Linked DNA regions of Homo sapiens. The protein of the gene in region 4 interacts with the protein of the main gene of each other region in a biochemical or structural test. Each region holds a gene or a part of one and is shown on either strand. Other genes may lie near its edges. The genes, in order: GLT8D1, MAN1B1, GALNT7 and GOLPH3L.

What was found.
Region 1: the proteins of GOLPH3L (region 4) and GLT8D1 form a complex in vitro, tested with the Homo sapiens proteins (one study listed by BioGRID).
Region 2: the proteins of GOLPH3L (region 4) and MAN1B1 form a complex in vitro, tested with the Homo sapiens proteins (one study listed by BioGRID).
Region 3: the proteins of GOLPH3L (region 4) and GALNT7 form a complex in vitro, tested with the Homo sapiens proteins (one study listed by BioGRID).

Annotation. Positions count from the first base shown.
Region 1 is NC_000003.12:52,702,777-52,709,664, forward strand, and holds the start of GLT8D1 (glycosyltransferase 8 domain-containing protein 1), read right to left. Parts: upstream 3,016-6,888; 5' UTR 2,671-3,015; intron 2,177-2,670; exon of another isoform or gene 1,948-2,176; intron 1,153-1,947; exon of another isoform or gene 1,023-1,152; intron 923-1,022; exon of another isoform or gene 728-922; intron 1-727. Other genes in the region: SPCS1 (signal peptidase complex subunit 1), read left to right, coding at 3,471-3,506, 3,868-3,927, 4,017-4,103, 4,911-5,036.
Region 2 is NC_000009.12:137,083,052-137,089,986, reverse strand, and holds the start of MAN1B1 (endoplasmic reticulum mannosyl-oligosaccharide 1,2-alpha-mannosidase), read right to left. Parts: upstream 3,003-6,935; 5' UTR 2,988-3,002; coding exon 2,769-2,987; intron 1,913-2,768; coding exon 1,804-1,912; intron 1,720-1,803; exon of another isoform or gene 1,589-1,719; intron 1,119-1,588; coding exon 982-1,118; intron 1-981. UniProt on the Homo sapiens protein: Involved in glycoprotein quality control targeting of misfolded glycoproteins for degradation.
Region 3 is NC_000004.12:173,164,241-173,171,815, reverse strand, and holds the start of GALNT7 (N-acetylgalactosaminyltransferase 7), read right to left. Parts: upstream 3,006-7,575; 5' UTR 2,981-3,005; coding exon 2,855-2,980; exon of another isoform or gene 2,164-2,854; intron 1-2,163. UniProt on the Homo sapiens protein: Glycopeptide transferase involved in O-linked oligosaccharide biosynthesis, which catalyzes the transfer of an N-acetyl-D-galactosamine residue to an already glycosylated peptide.
Region 4 is NC_000001.11:150,694,137-150,701,185, forward strand, and holds the start of GOLPH3L (Golgi phosphoprotein 3-like), read right to left. Parts: upstream 3,019-7,049; 5' UTR 2,856-3,018; exon of another isoform or gene 1,624-2,855; coding exon of another isoform or gene 1,594-1,623; intron 715-1,593; coding exon of another isoform or gene 703-714; coding exon 520-702; intron 1-519. Other genes in the region: HORMAD1 (HORMA domain-containing protein 1), read right to left, coding at 4,518-4,598, 5,976-6,047. UniProt on the Homo sapiens protein: Phosphatidylinositol-4-phosphate-binding protein that may antagonize the action of GOLPH3 which is required for the process of vesicle budding at the Golgi and anterograde transport to the plasma membrane.

The DNA.
Region 1 (6,888 bases), on a different chromosome or scaffold from region 4:
TTTCTTTCTTTCCTTTTTTTTTTTTTTCGAGACAGAGTCTGGCTCTGTCAGCCAGGCTGCAGTGCAGTGGTGCCGTCTTGGCTCACTGCAACCTCTGCCTCTCAGATTCAAGCAATTCTTGTGCCTCAACCTCCCGAGTAGCAGGGACTACAGGTGTGCGCCACCACGCCCAGCTAATTTTAATAGAGAGAGGGTTTCACCATGTTGGCCAGGCTGGTCTCGAACTCCTGACCTCAGGTGATCCACCTGCCTCGGCCTTCCAAAGTGCTGGGATTACAGGCCTGAGCCACCAGGCCCAGCCCACACACACCTTTCCAAAGCAGTATATATGAAGTACAACGTGTCAGTGAACTTCTTCTCATATACATCAGGGCGCCGTGGCTCACGTCTGTAATCCCAGCACTTTGGGAGGCCAAGGCAGGTGGATCAAGAGGTCAGGAGTTCGAGACCAGCCTGTCCAAGATGGTGAAACCCCATCTCTACTAAAAATACAAAAAATTAGCCAGGCATGGTGGCAGGTGCCTGTAATCCCAGCTATTTGAGAGGCTGAGGCAAGAGAATCCCTTGAACCCGGGAGGCGGAGGTTGCAGTGAGCTGAGACCGTGCCACTGCACTCCAGCCTGGGCAACAGAGTAAGACTCTGTCTCAAAAAAAAAAAAAAAAAAAGAGAAGTATATACATCAGTATATACCCTAAGTCATATGCCTCTATCACATTATGGGCTGACCTTATCTACAGAAGCTGGCAGAGGGGAGCTGTTCGGACAAAGCCCCAACATCTGCCTGCGATGAGGCAACTTCCACCACCACTGAGAAAACGATCTTGCACTCAAATAAATCCCACTTAATTAATGGTACAAGAGATAATGTTTTTAGTTTCTTGACTTCCAGTTAGCAGTTACGGGATCAAGAGGCACACTTGGCTGGAAACAAGAAAAACACAATTCTATCAAGTATCTGACATACTTAAGTAGACTGGCAAGGCAGAAACCAGTTGCTCCTAAAACTTCCACAGTTACCTACATGCAAAACGCCAGTTATCATGGAGTACGTCTAATCCATATTGTCTTTCCTGGGGCTATTCCTGGTAAGAGAGCTTTCCTGATCTGGTTAGAAGGAATTCTCAAAACGAAATTGCACACAGACGCTGGATCTGTAATAGTTAACTACATTTTCGTAAGAGTATATAATTGTGTACAATTTGATTAGCAACACAGTTGGTCCTCAGTATCAGTCGGGGATTGGCTCCAGGACTCCCCATGTATACAAAAATTCACGGATGCTCAAGTCCCTTATGTAAAATGGCATATTACAGTCAGCCCTCTGTATCTGTAATTTCAGTCCGTGGTTGGTTGAATCCAAGGATACAAAACTGTGGATACAAAAAAAAAAGACCGCACTGGCCGGGCGCGGTGGCTCATGCCTGTAATCCCAGCACTTTGGAAGGCCGAGGTGGGTGGATCACTTGAGGTCAGGCGTTTGAGACTAGTCTGGCCAACACAGTGAAACCCCGTCTCCACTAAAATCACAAAAATTAGCCGGGCGTGGTGGCGCATGCCTGTAATCCCAGCTACTCAGAAGGCTGAGGCAGGACAATCCCTTGAACCCAGGAGGCGGAGGTTGCAGTGAGCCGCGATCGCACCACTGCACTCCAGCCTGGGCAACAGAGCGAGTCTTCGCCTCAAAAAAAAAAAAAAAAAAAAAAAAAGACCACACAGAGATATATCTATTTATACACACAACAGAAAGTCTCTTCAAACACACCAAGAAATACAGAGCATGAGAAGGAAACAGGAATAAACTCTTGCCCATCCCTCTTTCTGCCTTCTACACGTCCTGAGTCCTTCTGAGGTCAGAAAAGTGTCAAACGTGTCTGCATTTTACTGTTTGGTCTCTGCCACGTGCAAGGATGAAAGGGCACTGAGGATATACAAACACTTTCTCCTACCCTTTCATCTGGCTGGCTCCCACTTGGCATTCAAAGGTCAAGGTAGCCTCCTCCAAACTCCACGTTGAGCTGCACCTCCCCTGAGCTCCCACATCTGGGCCTCCCTCTCCCAGGGCTAATCCAGCTGTCATGTATTTCTGGCGTGATGTGGCTGTCTCCCTTGACACGCTCTGGGCTCTTCCAAGGCAACAGCCTGGTCTTGGTAACAACCGTGTCCTCGGTCTGCTGTCTGGCACAAACAAGGTGCCGTGAATATTTGCTGGTTGCATGAATGAGGACAGCAGTCCCACCCTGTCCCGGGAGTGCCTAGAATTCCACTGTTTGTGGCCAACCCAGAATACATAACCTGGGGGCCGGAGAGCCAGCTGGGACCCAGAGGCCCGGGTTCCTCAGAACGGTTTCTCTCCAAAACGTGGGCATCCCACCTGGCTGACGGTAACGGAGGAGGGTCTAAGATTTAGAGATACACCAGCCTTGAAAGAGAGGCTGAGTGAACCTTTGGCTGGCCTCTATCGGGAGGGCCCAGCCTGGGTCTGTGAGGGTCAGTAAAGCCGGCCACAATGTGAGAGGGCTGAGTTCGGGAGCCCCCAGATGAGGGACTTTCTACGCGGATGAGAGGGACAGCCGAGCACCAGGGTCCCCTCTCCAAGGGAATTCTCTCTGTTGTGGATGCCGCCTAGGGTAGCCCCCCTAAATTCCAAGGGTCAGTAGGGCCCCCCTTACACTTTGAAGTGATCGGAAAGTGATGTGACGCTCCGGGGATCCCACCAGGCTCAGAGATACCCCTGGTTAGGGCTCCGACAAGTCGTTCCCCTCAAAGGCTCGCCGCGGCCGCCCTTACTGCAGGCGATGGAGGAGATGCGGATGCAGCCCGCGCCCCGACCCGCCCTGCCAGCTCAGCGCCCGCGCCGCAGGCCCCGGAGCCCAGCCCGTTGTCTGGCCGCCCGCGTTCCCTGCACGCTGGGCCGAGCACACTTGCCCTCTAGCTCCGTGGCAGCCGCGCAGCCCCACTACGCCCAGCCAGCCCGCAGCGGTAACCGCTAGAGCGTCGCGCCAAGCAGGCGCCGCGGGGCAGCCCTGCCGCCGGGGTCCTCGCAGGGAAAAAGGCCGTCGCCATGGAGACGCGGGGGCGCCGGCGGCCGTTGGGCCGCGCAAGTACTGTCAAGGACAGTTTTCGGGACGGGGGACGCGGCTCCAGGCACCCAACAGCACTGACGGCGAACACTTCACGGGCGCGCGATGCCTCGACAAGGCGGCCGCCACCACCACCTCAGCTGCCCTCGCGGGCAGCACGGCGCGGCAAAAGCGCACGTCGCCTAGCGATGGCGCGGGGCGGGGACACGGGCTGTACCGGCCCGTCGGAGACTTCCGCTTCCGGGGCCGCCGCCATCGCTCTCCCGGGCTTAGAAGGCCCGGCTACTGACGCGCAGTGCCAGACCTTACCCCTCACGGTCCTTAAGTCTCGGTCGCCCTCGCCTCGCAGCCTGCCACCCGCGCTCAGCTGCCCGCCTCCTCAGCCAGCCATGCTGGAGCATCTGAGCTCGCTGCCCACGCAGATGGTGAGGGCGCAACCCGGGGACCTCTGCACGCCGTTCTTGTGCCTGGCAGCTTCGAAGCCCATGTTGGAGCACCGACCCGGTGCTGCGCTGTTCCGGGCCCGGATGGTTACCGTCCACCCTCTTTCCCGAATTGCCTCCTGGGTCCCCTTCTCTTCTACTCCGCGAGAATCTCCTGTCCATTCTCCGTGAGGGTGTTTCAGTTCCTCCCGGGAAGCCCAGAATTTAATATCTTGCCCAGGCCCTTAGGAGAGCGGGAGACCCTGATGTTGGGGTTACCCTGTGCCAGAGTTGTGAGGTCAGGGCAGGAATTGTATGTTCTCGGCGGTGGAACCAATTCTTTTTTTCCTCTGCTTCACCCCAGGATTACAAGGGCCAGAAGCTAGCTGAACAGATGTTTCAGGGAATTATTCTTTTTTCTGCAGTAAGTATTGGTTTTACATTTAATCTCCGCCCCCGCCTCCCTCCCAACCCTCAGTTTGAGTGTGTTTAATATACTTCATTTGTCTCTAGATAGTTGGATTTATCTACGGGTACGTGGCTGAACAGTTCGGGTGGACTGTCTATATAGTTATGGCCGGATTTGCTTTTTCATGTTTGGTAAGAAATTTGTGGGTATTAGTGGCAGCTTGGGTTTTGTGAGTCGGGTTGGTTTGGTTAGACCTACTCAGTAGTGAGACCCAAAGCCAACGTTTCCCTCATCCTTCCAAACAGCGTTTCCCTTTGCTATCATTGGAAAAGTAGAATGCCAAAATAGTGTCAGATGGTGCGAACTATATAAAAGGACACAGCTTATTTCCTTTGGCGGCTACTCTGGCTAATAATCTTAAGGTCAAAGCCAGCAGGAGTTTTCATGGTGCTCACGTTGTCCCTTCACCTTTTATTTATTTATTTATTTAAATTTTTTGAGACGGAGTTTCACTCTTGTTGCCCAGGCTGCAGTGCACTGGGGCGATTTCGGCTCACTGCACCTTCTGCCTCCCGGGTTTAATAGATTTTCCTGCCTCAGCCTCCCGAGTAGCTGTGACTACAGGAGCCCACCACCACACCCAGCTAATTTTTGTATTTTTAGTAAAGACAGGGCTTCACTGTGTTGGCCAGGCTGGTCTCAAGCAATCCGCCCACCTTGGCCTCCCAGAGTGCTTGGATTACAGGCGAGAGCCACCACGCCTGGCCCCCACCTTTCTTTTAGGTCTTAAAGCCATTTGTATAGGCAGTGAGCCTGTTCCCATCATCATACAGTATTTTGCATGGATGGTGGCACAGAGCCTTTATAGGAATATGGATTTTTTTTTTTGTTTTTTTGTTCCCTCAGCATAGGAGTCATTTGGGAACCTGGCATTATACGTAATGATTTTTTAAACTTTTAATAGCTATAATTTATGCATTTCCTCTTTTCTGGCCCAGCTGACACTTCCTCCATGGCCCATCTATCGCCGGCATCCTCTCAAGTGGTTACCTGTTCAAGAATCAAGCACAGACGACAAGAAACCAGGGGAAAGAAAAATTAAGAGGCATGCTAAAAATAATTGAGGTTTTCATGATTCAGCACCTGCTTTTGTTTCTGTGAGATGAGCTAAATTGCTTTCATACCCCAGATAAGAGCTAAAACCACCTAATGCTCTTATGGCACAGCTGTGTATAGATTTAGTTCTCTTTATACTTCATTTCTAGCCCAGTTGGGTTTTGATTTATATAAGTAGTTTAGACCTTCTCTTCATAATCTTGCTCTGAGATGGGGAACAGAACACACAAGTATGAAGTTTCTTTCAGGTGTAAATAATGAAAAATAAATGCCTCATAAATGATAGTACAATGTAACTATCAAAGTTTTATAATTCATTATGAGTTAACCATTTTAATGTTTCCAATTAAACCTCATAGTGCAAGTTCTTTGTCTAAAGGGTCTTCTGTTGATTATTCTGCAAGGAAGATAATTAATAAAAGCCTAAGTTAGAAGTTCGTGCTTCTGGCCAGGTGCAGTGGCTCTCACCTATAATCCCAGCACTTGAGGAGGCTAAGGCAGGAGGATGACTTGAGCCCAGGAGTTTGAGACATTTCATGGTATGTAATTAATAGTTGTCATTAGAACATTAGTTCCATGAGAACGGGGACTTTGTTTTGCTCACTGCTGTCTACCCAGTACATAGAAGAGTACACGATGCATTGTTAAGTACTTAAGATTTATTGAATGAGAACTGCATTGTACAATATGGTGCCACTAGACACGTCTATTTAATTAAAATTAAAATATAAAACTCTAAAACTAGCCATGATTCAAAGGTTCAATAGCTATATGTGACTAGTGGCTACCATATAAAACATTTCCATCACAAAGTTCCATTTATCAGATCTTATATAGAACCTTGAATAAAATTTAATAGACAAGTGATTTTGTATTTAACATTTCACCTTTATTGAATGCCTATAAGGCCATTTGAATAACGGATCATGTACAAAGCAACAGGAAAAAAAAAACTGCAAGCAGTAAAGGTTGTGCAGGTGATATTCAGTAACACTGCAGTGTAGCCAGAGCAAGGACATAAAACTTCCTTAGCTTTGTAAGTCTGTGGAAATCAAAACTTCTAAAAGAGAAAACCGAAATCAGAATTACTGACACTTTAGGCCAGGCATGGTGCCTCAAGCCTGTAATCCCAGCATTTAGGGAGGCCAAGGCAGGCAGATCACCTGAGGTCAGGAGTTCAAGACCAGCCTGGCCAACATGGTGAAACTCCATCTCTACTAAAAATAACGAAAATCAGCCAGGCATGGTGGTGTGTGCCTGTAATCCCAGCTACTCGGGAGGCTGAGGGAGGGGAACTTGAACCCAGGAGGCGTAGGCTGCAGTGAGCCAAGATCGCACCACTGTACTCCAGCCTGGGCAACAAGAAGACTCCATCTCAAAAAAAAAAAAAAAAGAATGATTGACATTTTAGAACCAATGCCAAAAGAGTAACACATCAAAGTCTCTGAACTGTGGCCAAAGGTATATTCGGAAGAAAATTCACAGTCTTAAAGATGAGTTTTTAAATTAATTTAGGAAGATGAATTAAGCACTCAAGTAAAAACGATAAAAGTGGGAAGAAAAGATGTTTAAACAAAATAAAAATATACAGTATGGTAATTAATAAGAAAGTATGGGGGAAGTCAGGTGTGGTGGTTCATGCCTATAATCCCAGCACTTTCAGAGGCCGATGCAGGAGGACTGCTTGAATGCAGTTTGAGACCAGCCTGGGCAACACAGACTTCCTCTCCACAAAAAATTTTAAAAATTAGCCAGGTGTGGTGGTGCATGCCTGTGGTCCTAGCTACTTGAGGGGCTGAGGTGGGAGGATCACTTAAGCCCAGGAGGTCAAGGCTGCAGTGAGCTATGATCACCTCACTG
Region 2 (6,935 bases), on a different chromosome or scaffold from region 4:
AAACCACCTATACCTAGGGACTCCTAAAACCTGTCTCCCCTGGCAGACTCTGATCCTGGCACCACCTGCCCACCAAGGTCTCCATGGCGCCTCCCAGACATCTCACAGTGGGCAGATCCAAAACGGAGCTCCTCAGTGTCCCCAAGCCAGAGCCTGCACAGCCTTTGCTGGCCCCTCCACCCGGGGACTCACCCTCCTTCTCCCAAGGCCCACTCCTGCGGAGCACTCCTCCCCCCACTCAGCTTTTCCCACGGCCAGGCAGCTCTCCTGGCCTCCTGCCCTCCACTGTGTCTCCACCCAGCCAGAGCAGTTTCACAGTAAACATCTCAGACCTCCAGTCCACGCCAAAATCTTCCCGCATACATCAACTGGACCCTCCATGCTGCCTCCAGGACCTGCAGGACCACAGCTGGACTGAGCCAACCCCTGCTCCCTCTCCCAGCCCTGGGAATTTCACCTTCCCGCATATGCCAAGGTCCTCCTTGCCTCAGGCAGTTTCACTCAGGCTCAAGTCTGCCTCTCCCCACCTTGCCCGGTGCCAGCAGCTTCTCAGCCCTCAGATCTTGCCCTCAGTGCCACGGCCTCCCCTGAACCCTCAGGACCAGCCACTGTTCTTCACCAGCGCCCTGCTCTTTTCCACATAGGATGTACACCATGTGCCATCTGCCTCTGCCCATCTGTGCCTGGCTTCTCACCAGCCTCTCCTACCAGCTGTGGCCTCTTGAGAGGAAACAGGTCTGTCTTATTCAACACTGCACAGTCAGAAGTAAAACCGGAACTGGCCATGGCTGGTCTTCAAAAAGAATGAAGCAAAGACTACGCCTCTCTTTCCCCAAGTATTATCCGACCAGTCCAAAACGAGAGAGAGGTAAACACGTGGTAATAAATGGTAAAGGAAAATAATTCTTCTCAATCTTCAGTGGTTTGAAATGCCTCTGGATTGAACCCCAGTTATAACCCCACACCATTTGCTCAAAGTACCTGTGACGAAATCTCAGGTAAGTTCTCAGGGTCGGTGTCCGCCTTCTGAGGAGCTGGTAAGACGGGTGGATTTGCTGGTTTTAACCCAGCAATTTCTGGCCTCATCTTCTGCTCTTCCTCTAGCCTGAAAGCCAGAGCTGAATAACAGAAGCTATTTTATTTCAAATATGCCACAAGGCCTACAAGAGATTTAAACTGCTTTATAAAAACACTTGGCAGGCACTATCCATTACAAATCAACATTATGATACCTGATAGTCACTGAAATGAATTCAACAATGTCCCAAGGGAATGAAATCTTTTTCAAAACACTTGGCAGTTTGTGTCCTTGTCCATAACACAGAACCCCACATCTTTTGCCTTCCTATTTTCCATTCAGGGACGTTCAGCATGTGGCAGGTGGGCAGGAGCCCTTTAGCTTTGCTCCAAAGAGAAGCATCTTAGACCAAGTGAGAAGAGATTCTCCACATCCTCACCAGAACTCTGCCTGGTCTTTTCCAAACACACGCTAATGAGTGCTACGAAATTTGTGTGGTTATTTAGGCTGAGTGTTCAAGCCCACCAGCTGACTTACTCTATAAGGGAGGCTGGACATATCAGTACTTACACCAGAGACCTAGAAAGTAGTCAGACAGCATCAAATTAACATCTGTGTTCTAGCCAGGTGGTTACATACAGCTCTACCTTTCTCTTTATCTTGATTTCTTGCCAATTCGTTGCCATATATGCCTCCTGGAGCTGTTTAAGGTAGAATGCAAGATTGCTTCTGCCCAATCAACCCTCAACACAGATATCGTTTTCAAGTACACGTGTTTCTGATACCTTTCCAATGGTCAGCCAAGTTGATGTAGAAGAGGAGTCCACAGAAAAGCAGAAAGGCAAGGAGGAAGAGAATCATATTCCGCTGCAATCTCGACAGTTGCTTCCATTTCTAAGGGAGGTACAGAGAATGACATTTCTTACTGAATATATCACACGGAACGTCTCAACTGTCACAAACTGTGAGGACAATAAGGAATTCTTCTGGAAGATCCAGTGTTCAGCTCTATTTCTTTTTTTTTTTGGAAACAGGGTCTCATTCTGTTACACCTAGGCTGGAGTGTAGTGGGTGGAACGCGGGATGAGCCACCGTGCCCGGCCAGCTCTATTTATTTTGAATGGGGAGAAGTTCCCTCTCAGCAGGGAGTAGGAACATTGCTGGGACAATACTACAGATGTCGTTAATACAGTGGTGCAGATGAGACGAGGATAAGAAAAAAGCAGAAACATTTCTGTCACATTTCATCAACAGTGGAGAAAGACTCCTGCGACTCCCACAGATGTAGCCCAGGCACCGCCCAGGCGATGCACAGTCCGCATGTGGTTATCAATGCCCTTCGGCCTGAGACCACCACGAACAGACCAGGAGCCAATCAAGAGGGGCTCATTTCTCACTGTACCGAGGGGAGCATACACCACGGGGAACCTCCGGTTTCCGCTCCAAGAGGGGCAGGCGCCTGGGCCAGGACCTTGCAGAAAAGCGAACGAAGCCCAGAAAACCTGCTGGGGCTCTGAGCCCTCTTCCCACCACCGCCCCGCAGAATTTGGGCCGCTGAGACCGCTGCAGGCGAGCCGCCCACGGCTGCCCCAACCAGGAACGCACATTTGCCCCTTTTTGCGGGGAAGGGGTGGAGAGGGCGGCGCCTGGGGAGTCGAGTCCGCCCGCCCAGGTCCCGCTCGGAGCCGCAGTCTGGGAGGGCGGCGGGCACGGCAGCCCCGGGCCCCAGTCAGCCCGGCGCGACCCTCACCCTCCAGCACGAGCGCCGCCGCCAACTCTTGCTGTTGTCATAGTTCTCGCCAAAGCTCAGCGTCACCGAGATGAAGTCCCGATGAGGCGGCGGCGGCGGCGGTGGGTACATGACTACAGTGGTGGCGACGGCCCAAGGGGCCCCGCCCACTGGCGGCGTCAGGAAGTCCGACTGAGAGGAACCGAGAGCTCCGCTTCTCCTGCCCTCGCAGGCAGCCATCGCAGCGCCGTCAACAGCCCGCCCATCACACGGATACGCGACTGCGCGTGCGCTGCGTCTCTATGCGGCCAGTGCGCCCGCGCCTGTCTCCGCTGCGCTCCAGCGTACGGGGCTGCGTCCTACGGCGACTGCGTCAGACAACTGCTGCGACTCCGCCCTGCCCTCAGGTTCATTGCGCATGCGTCCGGCAGCGCCTGCCCAGGTGTGCTACGAGCGTAGCTGTAGCAACGGGGCGGGCCTTGGTTCGCCTGGGGCGTGGTCGCTGTCTGGGGCTCCCACGTGGTTCGCCTCATGGGCCTGGAGCTGGGCTTCTCTCGCCTCCTGTCGTCTGGCTGCACCGACTTTGCCCACGCCCTCACGGGAGACGCAGACACTAGGGACCCGGGGAGGCGCCCGGGCGGGGCCGCCATGTTGGCAGAGAGTCCCAGCGTCCCGCGCCTCGGTTCCGGAACCCGCGGCGCGGGGATGGAGCTGGGCTGCCCTTGGGCGCCGTCCTGGGCTGGTGCCCACCCTGGCCGCGTGGTCACCGGCAAGAAGCCCAGGGCCTCACCCAGGCGTGGGGGCCGGGGGAAGGACCGGACCCTCCCGAAGTCGCGGACCAGGCCGGGCGGCACCCGGGCTGGGGTGGCTGCTACCCCGAGCTAAGCTGGCTGCGCCGCATCTCACGGTCCCCGGGGCCCGAGCGCTGCGCCTGGACCGGCGCCGAGCGAGGCGGCCAATCGGCCGGCTGGACCCACAGTCCCCGCGCCATAGGCGGGTCGGGGCTTTCAGACCCGGCTCCCAGCCCTCGAACTCGGTAACCTTGGAGGTCAGCTTGAGATGACTGCGCTTCCTGCACGCGTTGTCCTCCCCAGAAACGCCCAAAATGGCAAAGCGGCGTCCGTGGCCGCCCGAGGCCCTCCCTGCCTGGGTTCTCCCCAGCCGAACCTCACGCCCGGCCCCTCCTTCATTCTCTCCTGGCCAGGCTGCTCCTGCCCTTGGGCGAATCCGCTGCGTCCCACGGTCCTGACTGTGGCATTTCTGCGTGTCTGGAGAGCTCCCCCGGCAGCGACGTCCTGCTTAGCACGTGGCTCGTCTAACTCTGTTCCCCTGGCCTCCTGCTCTTCTAGGGGTCATCTTTAGGTTTCTGCTGGTCTCTGCCCCCTGTGACACTTGCTGGTACCCAAATGAAGTCGTTTATGTCACACTCTAACAAGAGGCCCTGAAGAAGCCCTCACAAAAACATTAGCAACGGAGCGCCTGCGGCAAACCCTTCTAACCTTTGGTCTTTATGGTTTCAAAGCAGTTTATGGGAACTTCTCTTTTTTAAAAGATTCCCCTTGGGGCCAGGCGCGGTGGCTTCTGTAATCCCAGGACTTTGGGAGGCCGAGGCAGGTGGATCACTTGAGGTCAGGAGTTCAAGACTAGCCTGGCCAACATGGTGAGACACCCGTCTCTACAAAAAACACAAAAAAATTAGCAGGGCATGGTTGGTGGCAGGCACCTGTAGTCCCAGCTACACGGGAGGCTTAGGCAGGAGAATTCCTTGAACCCAGGAGGTGGAGGTTGCAGTGAGCCGAGATGGCACCACTGCACTCCAGCCTGGGCAACAGAGCAAGACTCTGTCTCAAAAAAAAAAAAAAAAAAAAAAAAGAAATTTCCCGTGGGCGGGGCACAGTGACTCATGCCTGTAGTAATCCCAGCACTTTTGGAGGCCAAGGTGGGCAGATCCCCTGAGCTCAGGAGTCCAACCTGGGCAACATGGTGAAACCCCTGTCTCTACAAAAAATAAAAAAATGAGTCCAGTGTGGTGGTGTGCACCTGTGGTCCCAGCTACTCTGGAGGCTGAGGTGGGAAGACCACCTAAGCCCCAGGAGGTCGAGGCTGCAGTGAGCCATGATTGCACCACTGCACTCCAGCCTGGGCAACAGAGTGAGATCCAGTCTCAAAAAAAAAAAATTCCCCCTTTCCTCAATCCCCACCCCACCCCCCCACCACATGCCTGTGACCCACTGAGGCTTGCATACTCTGCATTGCAATTATGTGTTATTCTTGATTAAATTCATTTATTCTGGAGAGCCTGAGTTTCTCTTTAGGTTGACACCACTCACTCTTGTCAGTCCCTGGAGTACCCCAAGCATCCTCACGTGGTTAGCAGGGAAACCTTGGCATCTCAAGGATGCAGGTGCAGGAGAGCGAGTCTCCAGGCTGTCAGAGCTGAGCATGCAGAAGCCTGCCCTGGAGAGCGCCCCGAGGTTCCTGACCGCAGGTTGTCTCAGGCCCTCCTGAGACCCTGGTGAAGAGTGGGATGGGACCGCGGGGGGATTCCTTGGCACCCCAAGTAGTCTTGGCCTTCATGTGTGAACTCCTGTCCCTAAGGGGGCCCCCAGTGAGCTCCAGCCCTGGGACACAGCTGTGAACACCTGATCCTTGTTCCCAACACCCGTGCACTGCCCAAAAACTGCACTTGCCAGAGTAGCAGTCAATTACGGCACCTTGTGTTTATTGGAAATATTCCACCTACAGAACATTAAGATGCCAGCAACCGGCCCGGCGCGGTGGCTCACACCTATAATCCCAGCACTTTGGGAGGCCGAGGTGGGTGGATCACGAGGTCAGGAGATCGAGACCATCCTGGCTAACACGGTCAAACCCCATCTCTACTAAAAATACAAAGAATTAGCCAGGCGTGGTAGTGGGTGCCTGTAGTCCCAGCTACTAGGGAGGCTGAGGCTGGCCTGGAGGTTGCAGTGAGCCAAGGTCACGCCACTTCACTCCAGCCTGGGCAACAAGAGTGAAACTCCGTCTAAAACAAACAAAAAAAAAGACTTCACCCAACTAACTGTGCTTGTGTAGAAAGAGGTTGCATCCCTGTTCCAGTCATGGCCATGAGGAACAGCTATGAGAAGGGCCCTAAGGCACAGCATGGTTTGCAGTAAGAAGGGCAGAGCCAGGGAGAGAGAAGTAAACATCATCTTCTGGGCTTTGGTTTCAAAAATCACAAGGTGTGGGCCTGAGCCTGCTGCCTGCCCAGGTCTGGGCGCCTCCACTCAGCCACTGTCCTCCCAGTGCCTCTAAATCTGGAAGGCTGCATCTGAACCTGCCCTTCCAGACAACACCCCTCCCCTGGGAAACCAATGGGGATGAGTAGTGGCCCTCCACTGGGGACTGTGGGTTTCGAGGTGGGGGCAGAGGATGAGTTGGCAGCAGTGGCATATCATAGCTCTCTTCATGTCAGCAGGGAGAGGGAGGTGCCACTGCCTCCCCTGAGATGAGAAAGCAGGCGAGAATCACCAGGGGAAGAACCCTGGGGCAGCTGGCTTGTCCCAGCCATGCCTGAGTGCACCAAATATGGAGGCTGCGTCCTCACTCGGAGAGCCAGGCAGCCTGAGCACCAAGATCCGTCAGAAGCAGCAGGCAGCTGGGGTGAGGGGTGGTGCCTCTGACTCATGAAATCCCGGATTAGTCAGCAACCATCACAGAGGCCGCCGGCATTGATCCCACTGGTTCTTGGGGAAGCACAGAAAACTCAGCAGCCTAAACCGACCATGGAAGAGGCTGAGAGGCAGAGGCCTTGGGGATAGATGGGGAGAAGGCAGGAGTACCGGCCGCAGGCTCAGGTGTCCAGGCCAAGCTTCTCAGAGCCACCTGGATCATGGACATCAGGCTCTTTCTGTGGCCTTGCTGGGCATCCAGGGTGTGTGGGCTGGGATGCCCCAGCCTTGCCCCCATTACTGGTTCGTCTGCTAAGGAAGAGGGGGCAGCCCTCGAGTGGGTGGAATTGTCCCCCTCATTCTGGTTCTGCATCTGTAGGCTGCAGAAGCACATCCTGTGTAGCTTATGCAGCTTCTAGTGCTCGGTGGGGTGTGGTGGATCCACAAGGCGGGCTCCCAAAGGGACATGCCCTCCTGTTCTCCCCAGATGACACCACACCTCCCTTGGGCCCCAACCCGAAGCCTCCTCTCAGCC
Region 3 (7,575 bases), on a different chromosome or scaffold from region 4:
TGAGATTAAGGACAAGGAGTATTTCCTTAACAACTAGTACCATGCCTGGTATATAATTGGCACTCAAAAATGTTCAAATAAATCAATATTTAAAATCACACAACAGAATATGATCGGAAATGTAAGGTCATTTTTCACATCATTCACTTCAGAGAAAGGGCAAGAGGCCCAGAGATGGGAAGGAAATAAGAAACATGTTTCTTTTGTCTTGACTCCACAGGTGGACAGACCTAAAACAAGGAAATAGTGCAGATGAGAAAGGACCATCCCAAGTTGTCAAGGCTGTAACAGAATTTAGTGTATGACATATTCATAGTTCAAGACAAAAAGTGGCACAGGGTGAATGGAGCCACAGGTACAAGCTTGCTGGAGTAGAGGCAGAACCCATACCTGGTAAACTGGATCGTTCAGGCTATTTAAAGGGATCCAAAAAAGTCCATGTGTAGATCAGCATTAAAGAGAAGCAGAGATCTCACCATGGGTGGAATATATGCAATAGTCATCGAAGTAAAAGAACCACAAGGGGGAGGAGAAACTCAGGAGTCAGAATCCTCCCTACAGGATTTGTCCTTCTAGCACTGTACCTTAAAAGCTCCTAGGTTAGTCTTTATTAAAGGAAGGCAATAATCCCTTATTTATGCTCTTATTATTTATAAGCTACACTTTAAATTGCTTGTATTACTATTTACCTGGGAAGCCAATAAAAGGGTCTTTCTTGCTCTTCTGATACCTAAGCATTCCTCTTAATGTTAATTATGTTAAGTCTTTAAAATCTACCTTTTGTTTTTGACAAATGACAGAAATTACACTGGATCCACTGAGAAACTTTATCAAGTACACTGAAACAAACAAAAAATCAAGATATCATCACCTTCTTTATCATCACCATATAGTACTGAAATGGGCATTATGGCCCATCCTTTGTTTGCACTAATAAAATATTCCACGAGTTGGCAAGTGATGCTGATGTTCCGCCACCTCTTTAAAAGATCATCAGAAGGGCGGGACATTCTGAACCTAGCTAGTTTTGTCAGTTTTTCGTCAGTTTCTCTACCAGAAAATAGGGGGTTAAACATTTCTAGCTACATGTAAAAAGCCATTTGATGACTTAAAACAAATATCCTCAATTGCAATATTCAGTTATCCTTTGTCAATAAGTCATATTGAGAGCAAAATTATAAAAAGATCACCATCACTCCATGAGCTGAGAAGCTTAAAACCGCAAATGTACTGAAAAGGAAAACTGATACTTTTTATTACCATCAATTTAGATGACTTAGATGGGAATCTATCCCAGATATTACAAAGGGATTCCACTGCTGTAGAGACTTCAAATACTAAAACTTCCAGATTACATCTAATCTCATGATATAGGCGAAGAGCTGATAATGGGATCTCCTCCTAGGATTCTTACTCTTGAAAGGACGCCACAAGCCTTTTTGCCCAACTTCTTGATGCTAACTTTCCAGAAGGAAAGTTAAATAAACATGACATAGAAGCGATGCTCATCACACTTGCAAAAAGCACTTTACAACAGAGAGAGCGACTCGACTCCTCCTGCAGCCCCGCCGCCTCGGCGGTCGTGAGCCCCTCATACCCTCTCCTACCCCCACTGGCAGCCGGCCCAGTTGGCTGTCCCAGCGGGGAGGAGGAAGCAGGTGGTGCAACGGTTCATCCGGGGGGAAGCAGGTCAGGGTCGGGGGCGAGGCCGGTGCGCGCCGCCCGCTGCCGGGTCAGGGAAGCCGCAGTGCCCGCGGTCCCTTCCCCGCGCGGCGCGGCTCCGGGTAACTAATGTTCCGAGGCGCCTGACTAAACCCTCCAAATCCAAGGAATGTCAGCGCTAACACTCGCGCCCTGGGCGGCAGACAAATGCGTCCCAGCGGAGCCGCCGCGAGCTCCGCGCCGCCGCTCCCCTCGGCGTCGGCCTGAGCTAGCCGGCAGCCGGCGCGGGGCGGCCGGGCGCCGACACAAGTTAGTTTTCCGGCCCAAGCAGCCCTGCCGCAGCCAAGGAAGAGGAACTGCTCCTCTTCCCCCGGATAGCGCCCGAGCACTGCCACAGCAGGGGCTTCCCCAGGCGCTGAGGGCTGGGGGCGGCGGGCAGGCGGGGCGGGGACGCCCCTCCGCCATCTCCGGCCAACCGCCCCTCCCTCGCCCAGGGACGCGAGGGGGACCGGCGGTCCGGGCGAGGCCTCGGCCGCGCATCGCACCCCGGCTCCCCGCCGCCGGAGTTGAGGGGGAGGCGCGCTCTCCGTAAGAGCCGGAGGCGGGGCGCCATCGCCCTCCCACTCCCCGGCGGGCGGGCCGGGGGAGCCCGGGGCTGCGAACACCCCCAGACGGGCGGCTGCGGGAGGGGAGGCTGGACCAAGGGGCCTGGTCCACCGGACCAGCGGTGGCGGCATCGGCATCTCGCCTCCTTCAGGCCTGCACGCGCCACAGGCCGCAGCCTGGACCAACCCCGCGTCCCCGGGCCGTGAGCGCTGCGGTCCCGGCCCCCCAGAGCGGGACGCCGGGCGGCCGCAGCCCCCCGGACCCGGCTCTCCGCCCGCTCCGCCCGCAGTCCCGGCGCGGAGAGCGGCCGCCCGAGCCGCTGCCGCGGCAGCGCGGGTGTCGGCGACGGAGCCCGGGGCGGGGAAGAGCGGAGGAAGGGGCGGCGAGGGGGCGGGCCGGCGGCGGCCAGGGAGGTCGGAGTGCGCGGGGCTCGGCACCCCCTCGGCCCGCGCTGCGCCAGCACCACCTGCGGAGCTGCGGTGCCCACGCCGTGCCGCGACCCCGCCGCCCCTGCTCCCTCCACACGCGGGCAAACAAAACAAGTTGCCGGTCGCTGCCGCCGGAGGGGGCCGGGCGGGTCACTCACCCTCATCCTGCTCAGCGGGCTTGGGTCGTCCGGCCGCGGGGTCAGGGAAGACCAGAGGACCACTAGCCCCAGGAAGCTTCCCACCACCAGCAAACTGCGTAAGATGAACCCAATCTTCAGCCTCATCTTCCTCCGGCGGCGAGAGACTCACAGCCCGGCGCAGCCGCCGCCACCGCTCTCCCCTCCCTCCTTCCCCCTCCTCCGGCTCTCCTCCCCCTCTTTCCCCCACCCCTACCGCTACGGCTGCCGCCCTCTCCGCTGCCTGCCCTTTCCAGCTCCAGATCCGGAACTCCCCTCGGCTACACCTTTCCCCGGGCTCTTCCCTCCGCTCCTCCCCGTGGCCCCCTCCCCTCTGGCGGCCACCGCAGAGCTCCGACTGACCCGTGTGCCTCGCTCTGCCAGGCTGCCTTCCTCTCTACCTGCCCCCTTCCAGATCCGCAGTCCCCTGCTCTCCACGCGAGCCCCCTTCACAGTCCCTGCTACCTTGTAACTAACTTGCACTTTTCCCGAGTCCGGTTCTTAGCCTTTGCCCTGCAGCTCAGCTCCTTAAAGCTTTCAGATCCCCAAACTTTTATTGTAATTATGGACAATAACTCCGTCCTTAACGCCTGTGCCCTCCGGGATCCCGTGGCCCGCCGCCCCCTCCGTTGGACCTGGAGTCGCTCTCGTCTGCACCTCTCCCTTAGACCCACTTCCCTGAGCCCCTTGTCGAGAGGCTTTCAGGAAGCCAACCAGGAAGTGGGACTACCGCTGCTGCTGCAGCAGCTCCACGTGGCTGATTTATAGCTGAAGGGTTTTTTTTTTTCCTTCTTATTGATTGTTCTTGCTTTTTCACACGGCTCCTTAAGGTGGTGAATTTGTAACCGAAAGGCCCAGGTGAGATGTGCAAATATCACTGGATTGGAGGAGCTCACTTGGAAAGCCAGTATTCCTCCTGAGCTAATGAAAAGAAAGGCTGTCGTCTTATGCCAAAAGCAATACCAACCTTGTTCACGGGCTGGTAAGTTTCAAATCCAAGGACCACGGATTTCAACTCCACCCTCATTGCGTCCCTCAGATCTGATATTTGCCACTTGATTTCTGCTTTTCAAACGCCTTTTCTGCCTGTGTTACCTAAATTACACAGTAAAGGATATTGGCAAGTGTTTAGCCAAATGCCCCACCCTGAGGAAATAATTTTTCTGCCCATATCTCCCAATAAAGATGTCTATGCCTTTATAGCAGAATGTATGTAATTACATTATCAGTGTACTATATCCTAAACTGCTAATTTAAATTTAAGTCGAACAAAACGTTTTAAGATTTTATCCTAAGTTTTTTGGGGTTTTTTTTCTTTTCTTTTTTTTTTTTTTTTTTTTTTTTTTTTTTTTTTTTTTTTGAGACGGAGTCTCTCACTCTGTCACCCAGGCTGGAGTAGAGTGCAGTGGTGCGATCTTGGCTCACCTCAACCTCCACCTCTCGGGTTCAAGCAATTCTCCTGCCTCAGCCTCCCCCGTAGCTGGGACTACAAGTGCACACCGCCACGCCCAGCTAATTTTTTTTTTTTTTGTATTTTAGTAGAGACGAGGTTTCACGGTGTTGCCCAGGCTGGTCTCGAACTCCTGAGCTCAGGCAATCTGCCTCGTACTCCCAAAGTGCTAGGATTACAGCTGTGAGCCACCACACCTAGGCTATCCTAAGTTTTAAGATGGTAACAGCTGATTCTTTTTTCTCGTACTGTCTCACATCTGCAAGTTTTTTGCTTTAAAACAAAGCTCAGTTATGTAAAGTTTTACAGTGAAACAATTTCAATTATCAAGATAGATAAAGAATTATACCAAACTACCTTCATGTGCTTTTTGGCTTGGCTTACAATAGCTAGTATATCAGGGAGTTCTGTAGATGCCATAATTTCAAAATTTCCACAAAATATCTGAAGTGATATCCTCATGAACAGCATGGTTCCGGAAATGTAGAATGGATTGTAGTTAGGTGTATTATTGGTTGGCTGAAGGACTGTACATCATATTGTATAAAAGTCCACTATATAGAGTACCTGGAAGAGGGACTGTCAAGTGTTAAACACAAATCACTGCTTGACTTAGCATTTATATCAGCCCCTTAGGTTAAAACCAGTTGTTTTAAGTAGAAGATGAGAGATTTTGCCTAAGACCATTTTTTTTGTGTGACAGAGATCTAGAGTGTGTAATTCACGAAGTATGAATCTGCTGGGTAATGTGATATGAAAAGCGAATGCACCATTTCTTGGTGATGATTCAGGTCAGCGTTGGGACCCAGGAATCTCCTGTTAATCAGTACCCTGGTGATTTTGATCCAGGTAATCTGGGCACCACCTTTGGAGAAACACTGAAAGGAAGCAAGGTTGCGGGGGGTGGTTGGGAAAAGTCTTATATGGATATCTTTGGAAGACAGAAATAGGCTCATTTATGGACTCAACTTGAACTGTTCAGAAGTGAGGTGGACTCCTTTTCTTTTTTATTTATTTTTTTTTTGAGTTGAGGTCTTGCTCTGTCACCCAGGCTGGAGTGCAGTGGCACATCCATAGCTCACTGCAGCCTGGAACTCCTGGGCTCAAGTGATCTTCCCACCTCAACCTCCCGAGTAGCTAGGACCACATGTGTGAGTCATCATGCCCAGCTAATTTTTTTTTTATTTTTTGTAGAGACGGGGTCTATTATCTGGTCCTGTTGTCAAGGCTGGTCTCAAACTCCTGGCCTCCAGCGATCCTCCCTTTTTGGCCTCCCAAGATGCTGGTATTACAGGCATGAGCCACCATGGTCCACCCGGACTCCTTTTCATAGGAGACAGTTCCCTAGGCAGAGACTGGGCTTGAAACAGGTAACTTACAAGGCATCCTGTGATCATAAGAGAATAATTCCATTTGAAATCAGCAGCTGAAGTCCACCTGAATAATTAAGTCTTTCACTTGTGTTATTTTCACAGGGGAGACAGTTTTTTATTCTTAAGAAGGTAGGAAGCTTTATTTTTACTGTTATGAGCATAGCTGGGCAAGTATGCAAATGGAAAGTGATACCTATCATCAAAGTATTGAGGATGGTCCTTTGAAGGCCCTAGTATTCTGAGAACATCCTGCCACCACTACCACCCCCCAACTTTAGTTTTACACAGAGAACTTAAAATATGTGTGAAAGAGTATATAGTTATACAGTTGTATATTGATGAATAGGTATATAGTTGTAAAAGTTTATGTTTCTCTGAGTCTTAATAACTTTTAAAAGAAACTGCAAGTAAACTAACACAGGAACAGAAAACGAAATATTGCATGTTCTCACTTATAAGTGGGAGCTAAATGATGAGAACACATGGACACATAGAGGGGAACAACACACACTGGGGCCTATTGGAGGGTGGAGGGTGGGAGGAGGGAGAGGATCAGGAAAAATAACTAATGTGGGTACTAGGCTTAATACCTGGGTGATGAAATAATCTGTACAAACCCCCATAACACAAGTTTACCTATGTACCAAACCTGCACATGTACCCCTGAACTTAAAAGTTTAAAAAAAGTGCAAATATACCTTAAAACATATGCCCATTGCAGTATTTGCTGGGAGGCAGCCTTTGTAGGGTTGACAGAACTCGTTTAGAAAATGAGGAGCTACATTCAAAGCTTCAGTCAAGATAAATCACGTACCTCTCTGAACCTAGGGCTTTTATCTGCCAAATAGTGATTACAATACTCAACCTTATGATGTTCTCAAAAGGAATAATTGAGATCAAGTACATATACAAATATAAAGTACAATTAGTGTAATGGAACAAGTCTCAGGTGCGTGTGGCTATAATTCTTGTTTTATGAATGCTGCAGTTCCTCTAAAGAAGAGGGTAGAGACTAGAACTGAATGAGATGGACATAGAGATGGCCAAGAAAAGCATCGTCCTCTGCCAAGTCATGGGGTCATGTGTGGTGGATGGTGACATGGTGTCCTCAGCTCAGAGTCCAGCTGGGGGCTCAGAAGCAAGGTAACTGAAGGGAGAGAATTATTTGAGCACCTAGTGTGTGTAAGATGCTTCACATTTATTATTTCACCTAACCTCTACACAACCTGTTGTGGGTATTACTGGTCTCAAGCTGGGATTCAAAGCAGGTTTTTCCAACCTCAGAATTCTTGCCAGACTGATTAGCCTTCTGCATCTGGAACATAAATGTTTTCAGGCAGCATAATGTGCAAGAGGTCAGAGCCTAAAGCTTTGTTATTTTTTAATTTCTCCACCATGTCAACTCTGTTACAGGGAAGCCCAGCAGAGGGAATTGTATCCATTTTGGGGCTACACTACCCCAATGCTATGCTGCAGCCAAGCTGAACTTCTAAGTTTCTAAATGTAACTCACTTACCTTCAGGCCTTTGTACGGGGAGTTCTTTTTGCCTGAAATACCTTCTGACATCTTAACATTACGCTTAGATGTCAGTTACAAAAAAGCTTTTTCTAGACTCTCTCACATGTCCCACTCCACACCCCTATATCTCTTCCCACCAATGTACTAGGGTAGGTATCCTGCTAGGTACTTCCACTGCACCCTCTACTTTTCTTCCCTAATGATTACCACTATATTGTAATTGCTTAATTTCTTTTTCCTATACCCAGATAAAAATGTGTATGAAGGTGGAGCCTTGTCTATCTAGTTCGTTATTGTTATCCGTGTCTGGTATGTGGAAAGGGCTCAGTGAGTATTTCTTGATGGAATGCTGAATGAATAA
Region 4 (7,049 bases):
GCGTGAGCCACCGCGTAATCCAACTGTTGATATTTGCCTTATAAAGATGCACAGAGGAAAATAAAAAATTATTTCTGCTATAAGAAACCTACCAATTGTTTATTTCTGTAAGGCAACTAATCACACATGTTCCTTGTCTTTTCATGTAAAAGACTATTTCTCCTCAAAGCTGAAGAAGACTTCAGTGTGTGGGCCCTTGTTCTTACTTTAATAAACGGTATTATTTCGCCTTTAATCTAACTTGGGAAACTACAAGTACAAAACTTTATACTATATCCTCCTCTCCTGTATCTTCTAAAATTTTGGAGTAATTTTGTAATTAAATACACTTCACGTAATTCTACTTCTGGATTTTTACCCTCCAAGTATCGGTCACTGTCCCAACTCCTCCATCTTCCAGATGGTTAGAGCACAATTCTAAGACCAATTTATTATTAAATATATTCCATTAGGTTACTTCCTAAAACATTCCAATATTTAATAGTCTTTGAGATAGCCTAGCAAACCTAACTGCATTACCTCTTTATCTTTTAGTCCCAGAAGCAATACTTCTTCCATAAGAGTAAGGCGGATATCCTTAGAGTCTCCAGAATCTTCATTGTCTGGACTTTTCTCCCAATTACTGTCTTCCTCACTTTCCATCTTCTTTTCAGAGTTCTTGCTTATTTCAGTGCGACGGGCCCGGTGAGTTAAAGTGGTCATTCTCACCTGTTTCTGGAGGGAGTGGTGAAAAAAAAAATCCATATGTATGCTTATGTAAATAAATCATATATTCATACATGCATACTAAACATCCATACAAATAGGAAATATTTACAGATTTAAATATAGAAAGAAAGGAAGGAGTAATGACCAGAAAAAAATGGGTGGGTAATACAGTATCTTTTCCAAAGTACAATAGCTTGGACTTCACAGATGGCACTGACAAAAGATCAAATGAGTAATTCTAAAGTCCAGTAGAAATGCTCATCTTTCAAGCCTGTTGACTTCTTTTTTTCTTTTTCTTCTTCTTTTCTTGAGAGGGAGTCTTGCTCTGTTGCCCAGGCTGGGAGTGCAGTGGTGCGATGTTGGCTCACTGCAACCTCCGCTTCCCAGGTTCAAGTGATTCTTGTGCCTCAGCCTCCTGAGTAGTTGGGATTACAGGTGTGCGCCACCATGTCTGGCTAATTTTTGTATTTTTAGTAGAGATGGGGTTTCACCATGTTGGCCAGGCTGGTCTTGAACTCCTGACCTCAAGTGATCTGCCTGCCTGGGCCTCCCAAAGTGCTAGGATTACAGGCATGAGCCACCAGGCCCGGCCAAACCTGCTGATTTTTTCTGCATAATCTATAAAGAAGGAGTGAATATCCACCATTGTCACTCCTCTTTCACAAAATGGATCCCAAGTTAAGTAAGATGGAACAACAAAAAATTGTGAGCATCCAGCCCCAAAATGCATATAATAATTTGTATCTAATTTCTATAAACGTTCCATGGTACTACATTATAAAAAAACACAAAAAATAGAAAGTAAAAAAGAATACGAAAAACTAAATAGAAATACATGTTCTATATTTCCTTCCCATACCCTAATGACTCATTTCATGTACTCACTTTGGAGATCACAAGTCTAGACGATAACATTCAGAAAATCATGTGTAGTAATTCCACAGTCAGTAAACTTAGCAGCTCTAGTCCTAGCTAGCCATATCTTGCAAATACACAAGGAGCTGCAAACAAAAATTACTGGCAAGAGAGTGTTGAAAGATTAACAAATTTTCTCAATTTAAAAAAAAAAGTCAAAGAACATGTCTTTTATTCTATGTACTACGGTCAAAAGAAACTGCACTAAATCATTTGTGATAAAGTTTATAGTTAGCATACTTTATTTTATATAAATCTAGATATCAGTTTTTAAGATAATATATAACAAATATTTTAAATCAGCAATTATATAAAGGAGTATCTTTTTCAAGATCAAAATAATGGTATTTAAGAGTTGCTATGACTGGACTCGTTTCTACTCCTCTAGCAATATTTCCCATTGCTCCTAATAAGTAGTGTTGCCAGACTTTTTCTCAAAAATGTCTCATGCTTTCTTTCTGCTTCTGCTCCTCTGTACTTGCTGGGGTCTTCACCCTTTTCTCTTCCTCTTTACATTCTACCCATTCTTTAAAGGCCTTGTGAAGGCCTTTAAGTGACCTCCTCTTTTCTATTACCTATGTGTCTCATGGCCACTCCCTCAGCTGTTTCACAGAGCTTTATTTATACTCACTTCCTTTAAAGTATTTATTATAGTCTTTCTCTTGGTATAGCTGTCTCTCAACTGTAAACTTCTTAAGAACAGGGATATTGTCTTCTTGGGTTTATATATTCTCCATAGCAACTAGCACTGTCTTTAACATTGTTATTGCTCGATAAATTTATATTGATTAAAATGAATACTCAGAAGTGCATGTGAACATTTAAAATAGAAATACAAATGAAGTGAGCTACAAAAGTTTTTTTGTACAAGGGTATATTTCAAATATAATTTGTTATGGGAGGTGGGAAGAAAAGTGAAGGAGGAAGAGAACCATGAAATAAATTCTTAAGCGCACTAAGCCTATCTGGCACTGTGAATAGGGACTATTTCCTAAACCAATCCAAGAAACTTTAAACCTTCGCGGGGCAGGGGGGGAGGGGGAGAGGGGGCGGTTTCTTTGAGAAATTAGTTTCATCTGCACATTTACTAGTTAAAAATCCTACTTGAAAGAAAACAAATGGCCCAAATGAATACAAACCTTTCCCTCCCATAAAATAATAATTTTAAAAAATAGAGGTTTTTTTTGGTGGGGGGAAGGGACGTTAGGAAATGTAATTTTCTCGTTGCTTACCTGATGTTACTCCTGGGTTATGGCTGGACGCAGGCTGTAGCTTGTGCTGTATTTTAGAAGGACACCTGTTCTCCCCACCCCACCCCCGTCCTAGTAGGTGAAAAACTTAGCCACGCAGAGAGCACAAACTTCCTGATCCTTCGATGCAGAGAAGGAATAACACATCAGCTTCCTCAGGATCACTAGGCAACCTACCTTGGTGTTTCTTCATTGCGCCAATCAGAAATCACCAAGGTTGAGTCCCGCCAATCGGAGCTCACAGGGGGAGGCTCTCCCCCAGCTATTCTGTTGCGATCCAGACAAACACCACCAAAAGGAGGCAGGTTTGCGTTCAACCTGACAGCTGGTCAATCCAATGAAGGAACCTTGGTGGAAGAGAGGAAAGAGGGCTGCGCTCCCCACCCCCATTAAACCAGCCAATCAAAGCGCTGAGTGAGCTAACATGGGCTGCCAATCTCGAAAGGTTTCTGTGGGTTAATTTCAGCGTAGCAGGTGTGTTGCTGTAGTAGCGTATACTGGGACAATTAAGTGAGATGTGTTGGGATCCAAGCAATACAGCTAAAAATAAATAAATATTTTTACATTGGTTGTTTCTGACAGTCAGTTTATCCTTGACTTGACTGTTCCAGAAAAACATGATCTGGGTCAGTTTGTGTACGTTTATATGGTTTACCTTAAACAGGATGAATACATTTCTACCATCGCATATGTACCAGCATTCCCTATAGCGCTTATTACTGACAAACCCATGGATGTGTATGTTTTTGGAATATGGCTGCTGAAACTACAAGCGGCAAACAGACCAAGTTTTAAGTCTTCCTTTTTCTAAAGCAAAGAAAGCAGGCAAGGCTGGAACTAGCTCCCAGGTTTCTCATTAAAAGCACAGCATTTTTCATACTACCACTCAAAAATTCTAGAAAGTGTGCTCAACTCTTCTTGCAAAGTAATAGCTACCGAAATCATCTAAAAATTAGTATTCCCTATCCCCCCATCCTCCTACCAGCCTTTCAAATGAATGAAGCCATATTTCCTGCTACTTAAATAAAAATTAGAAGCGATAAAAGGGCCTACGTACTGAACAATATTTTATTTATGCTGCAAAAAATGCCATACTTTAAAAATCAGTCTTTTTGTCCTGTAAAAAAAAGCATAGTAAAGGTAAAGCACCAATTCTTAAATTGTACATTATATATTAAAATGTTAATACATTATGTCAAAATATTGAAGAACATTGTTTTAATAACAGCACAATGACAAAAGAGCCAGTTAAATGGTATAATTTTAACATAAGTAAAAAGTGAATCCATACCAAATTTTAATACCAAAGTAAACATTACTGTTTAGAAAAATGGCATTAGAGGGCCTTAACAGTTAGTATATATTTAAAGGAAATATTAAGTAGGTAATGAACAAAATCAATTTTGAAATTTTACTTATTACCGAATCAATTATGACATTTGTACTTTTGCTTTTATTCAAAAGTTCTATTGGATTTATCTCAAGATTAAGGACCACAATATGACAGTCAGCCAAAAACTTAGTTTTAGTGTACAAACTGCTTTAAACTACATATACATCTTCAGAGTTAGGGAAATATAATATAGGGTCCTTCAGTTTAAATGGTGAGAAGAACTCTGCAAGCCTGCAGAACAAAAATAATTTTTATATATGTTCCTTTGGTTCACTAAACTTTCTCCTTTTTGGCACTGACTCTTGACTAGAAGAATCAAAGTGATGGAGGACCTGTCAAAAGAAAACAACTACTAAGAATAGATACTTTCCTGTTTAAATGTCTTTAATTGTAGATTTTTTCATGTATCTGAGATTTCTCTTCTTTTTAAAAAAATTTATGCCTAGCATACCTAGCATAACTATATCTGGGTTTCTTAAAAGTAGAGTAAAATTTATTATTAACATCTTCCAATGGCTGCTGAAAGTATGTACTTGCAAAATGTATAATCTTCAGTAGGGCTGCTCTAGAAGTGAGAAGATAGATTTAACATTATGTCCTCAAAATAGCCAAATATTTCAGAGCAATAAGAAGGGAAAAAAGATTTTAAAATGAACTACAAATAGAAAAACATTCTACCTTGGAATCATGTACGATTTAAATCATGTCTTGCTTTTGTACTCTTGAGACGTTAACATTTGAGTTTTAAAAATAGTCTTAGGTTTTCAGTTGTTTAATTCTAACCTACTAATAATACTAAAATATCTAGTTGGAAAAATATGAATAATTATCTCAGAAATGGCAAATACATTATCTGATTTGGTAAAATAAGGTTCTAAATATGAAACAACTATAGGGTTTAAGTCAGGAAAATATTTTTTTCTCCAGAGGTACTAGGAGGAGACCCTATATTTTTAGGGAACACATGTATTTAGTAAATTATCCTCCTTCTACTTCAGTTTTGATCTCTAGAAAGCTCAGATCAAATTTGTGGCCCAATTTCAGTTCTATATAAACAAAATGGCCTTAGTATTCTTGTACTGTCACTTTCTCATTCTATATTCTCTTATATTTTTCCTGGCACTGATTTTTTTTTTTTTTAAAGACGGAGTCTTGGTCTGTCGCCAGGCTGTAGTACAGTGGCGCGATCTTGGCTCACTGCAACCTCCACCTCCCAGGTTCAAGCGATTCTCCTGCCTCACCCTCCCGAGTAGCTGGGACTACAGGCGTGCGCCACCACGCCCAGCTATTTTTTTTTTTTTTTGTATTTTTGGTAGAGACAGGGTTTCACCATGTTGGCCAGGAGGGTCTCGATCTCTTGACCTCGTGATCCACCTGCCTCAGTCTCCCAAAGTGCTGGGATTACAGGCATGAGCCACTGCACCCAGCTGATTTTTAATTTATATATTATAAATTCCTCCAATTACTTTAAATCATTCATGGAATGAGACAGGAGATGTTTACATGGAAAAAACTAATAAACCAACATAGGGCATCTTATTTCAAAATCACCTCGATTTTTAGAACAAAATATATTTAAACAAAATTTGAATATCAGAACTCTCAGGTACATCGAAAGATATCAAATTCATCATTTTAAATTTAATCTGTAGTAATGATATTCTGATCCTTCCCATTGTATTCAAACTATACATTATCATAAGACTTACTATTCTCCCAGATTCATGTTGACTTCTCTTCCGATTTTCTTTGGAAGATTTTACTGGTTGATTTCCATTTGCCTCCACAAAGATAGAATAATTACTAATTGGTTATTTCTCAAAGAACAGCCAACACTTGATTTTTCAATCTTATGCAACGATATGCAATATTTATTTATTTATTTACTTTTTAGGGACAGGGTCTCCCTCTGTCACCCAGGCTGGAATGCAGTGGCACCATCATGGCTCACTGCAGCCTGAAACTTCTGGCCTCAAGGGATCCTCCTGCCTCAGCCTGCCAAAGTGCTGGGATTACAGGAATGAGCTACAGTGCCCAGCTGGATATACAATTTTTTTAAAAAACAGCTTTATTGAGATATAATTTAGATACTATATGATTCACCCATTTATAAGTGTACAATTCAATGATTTTCAGTACCTTCACAGAGTTGTACAACCATCACTACAATCAATTTTACATCACTTTCATCACCCCACAAACAAACCCCATATACCTTAGCTATCACTCTCTTATTCTGCCATCCTCCCACCAGCCTTAAGACTGTCTCAATAACTTTCCCAGTTCTGACTTTCAAATGAAAGGAATAATACAATATGTGGACTTTTGTGAGTAACTTCCTTTAATTAGCATGTTTTCAAGGTTCATCTAAGTTGTAGCATGTATTGGCACTTCATTTTTTTTATGGCTGATATTCAATTGTATGAATATACCACATTTTTTAATCCATTCATCTGTTGATGTATATTTAGGTTTTTCCCATCTTTCGGCTATTGTGAATAATGCTGTATATATAGTTATTAAAATGAATATTGGAAAATGACTAATGATTAGGTGTCATACAACTATTCTCTAAAAGGATATACTTCTTTTCTGATGCTTGAAATGAGCTTTCCAATGATAACTTCCTTAGTATATATAATAATGAATATTTTCATTTCTTGCCCTTTTCTAACCACAATTCAGTAATAATTCTCAAAATCAGGAGTACACTTGCTCAGAGTTCATATCCAAAAACATGTGCAATTTCAGAAATAAATTTATGTCCCTAAATCATCTTAATG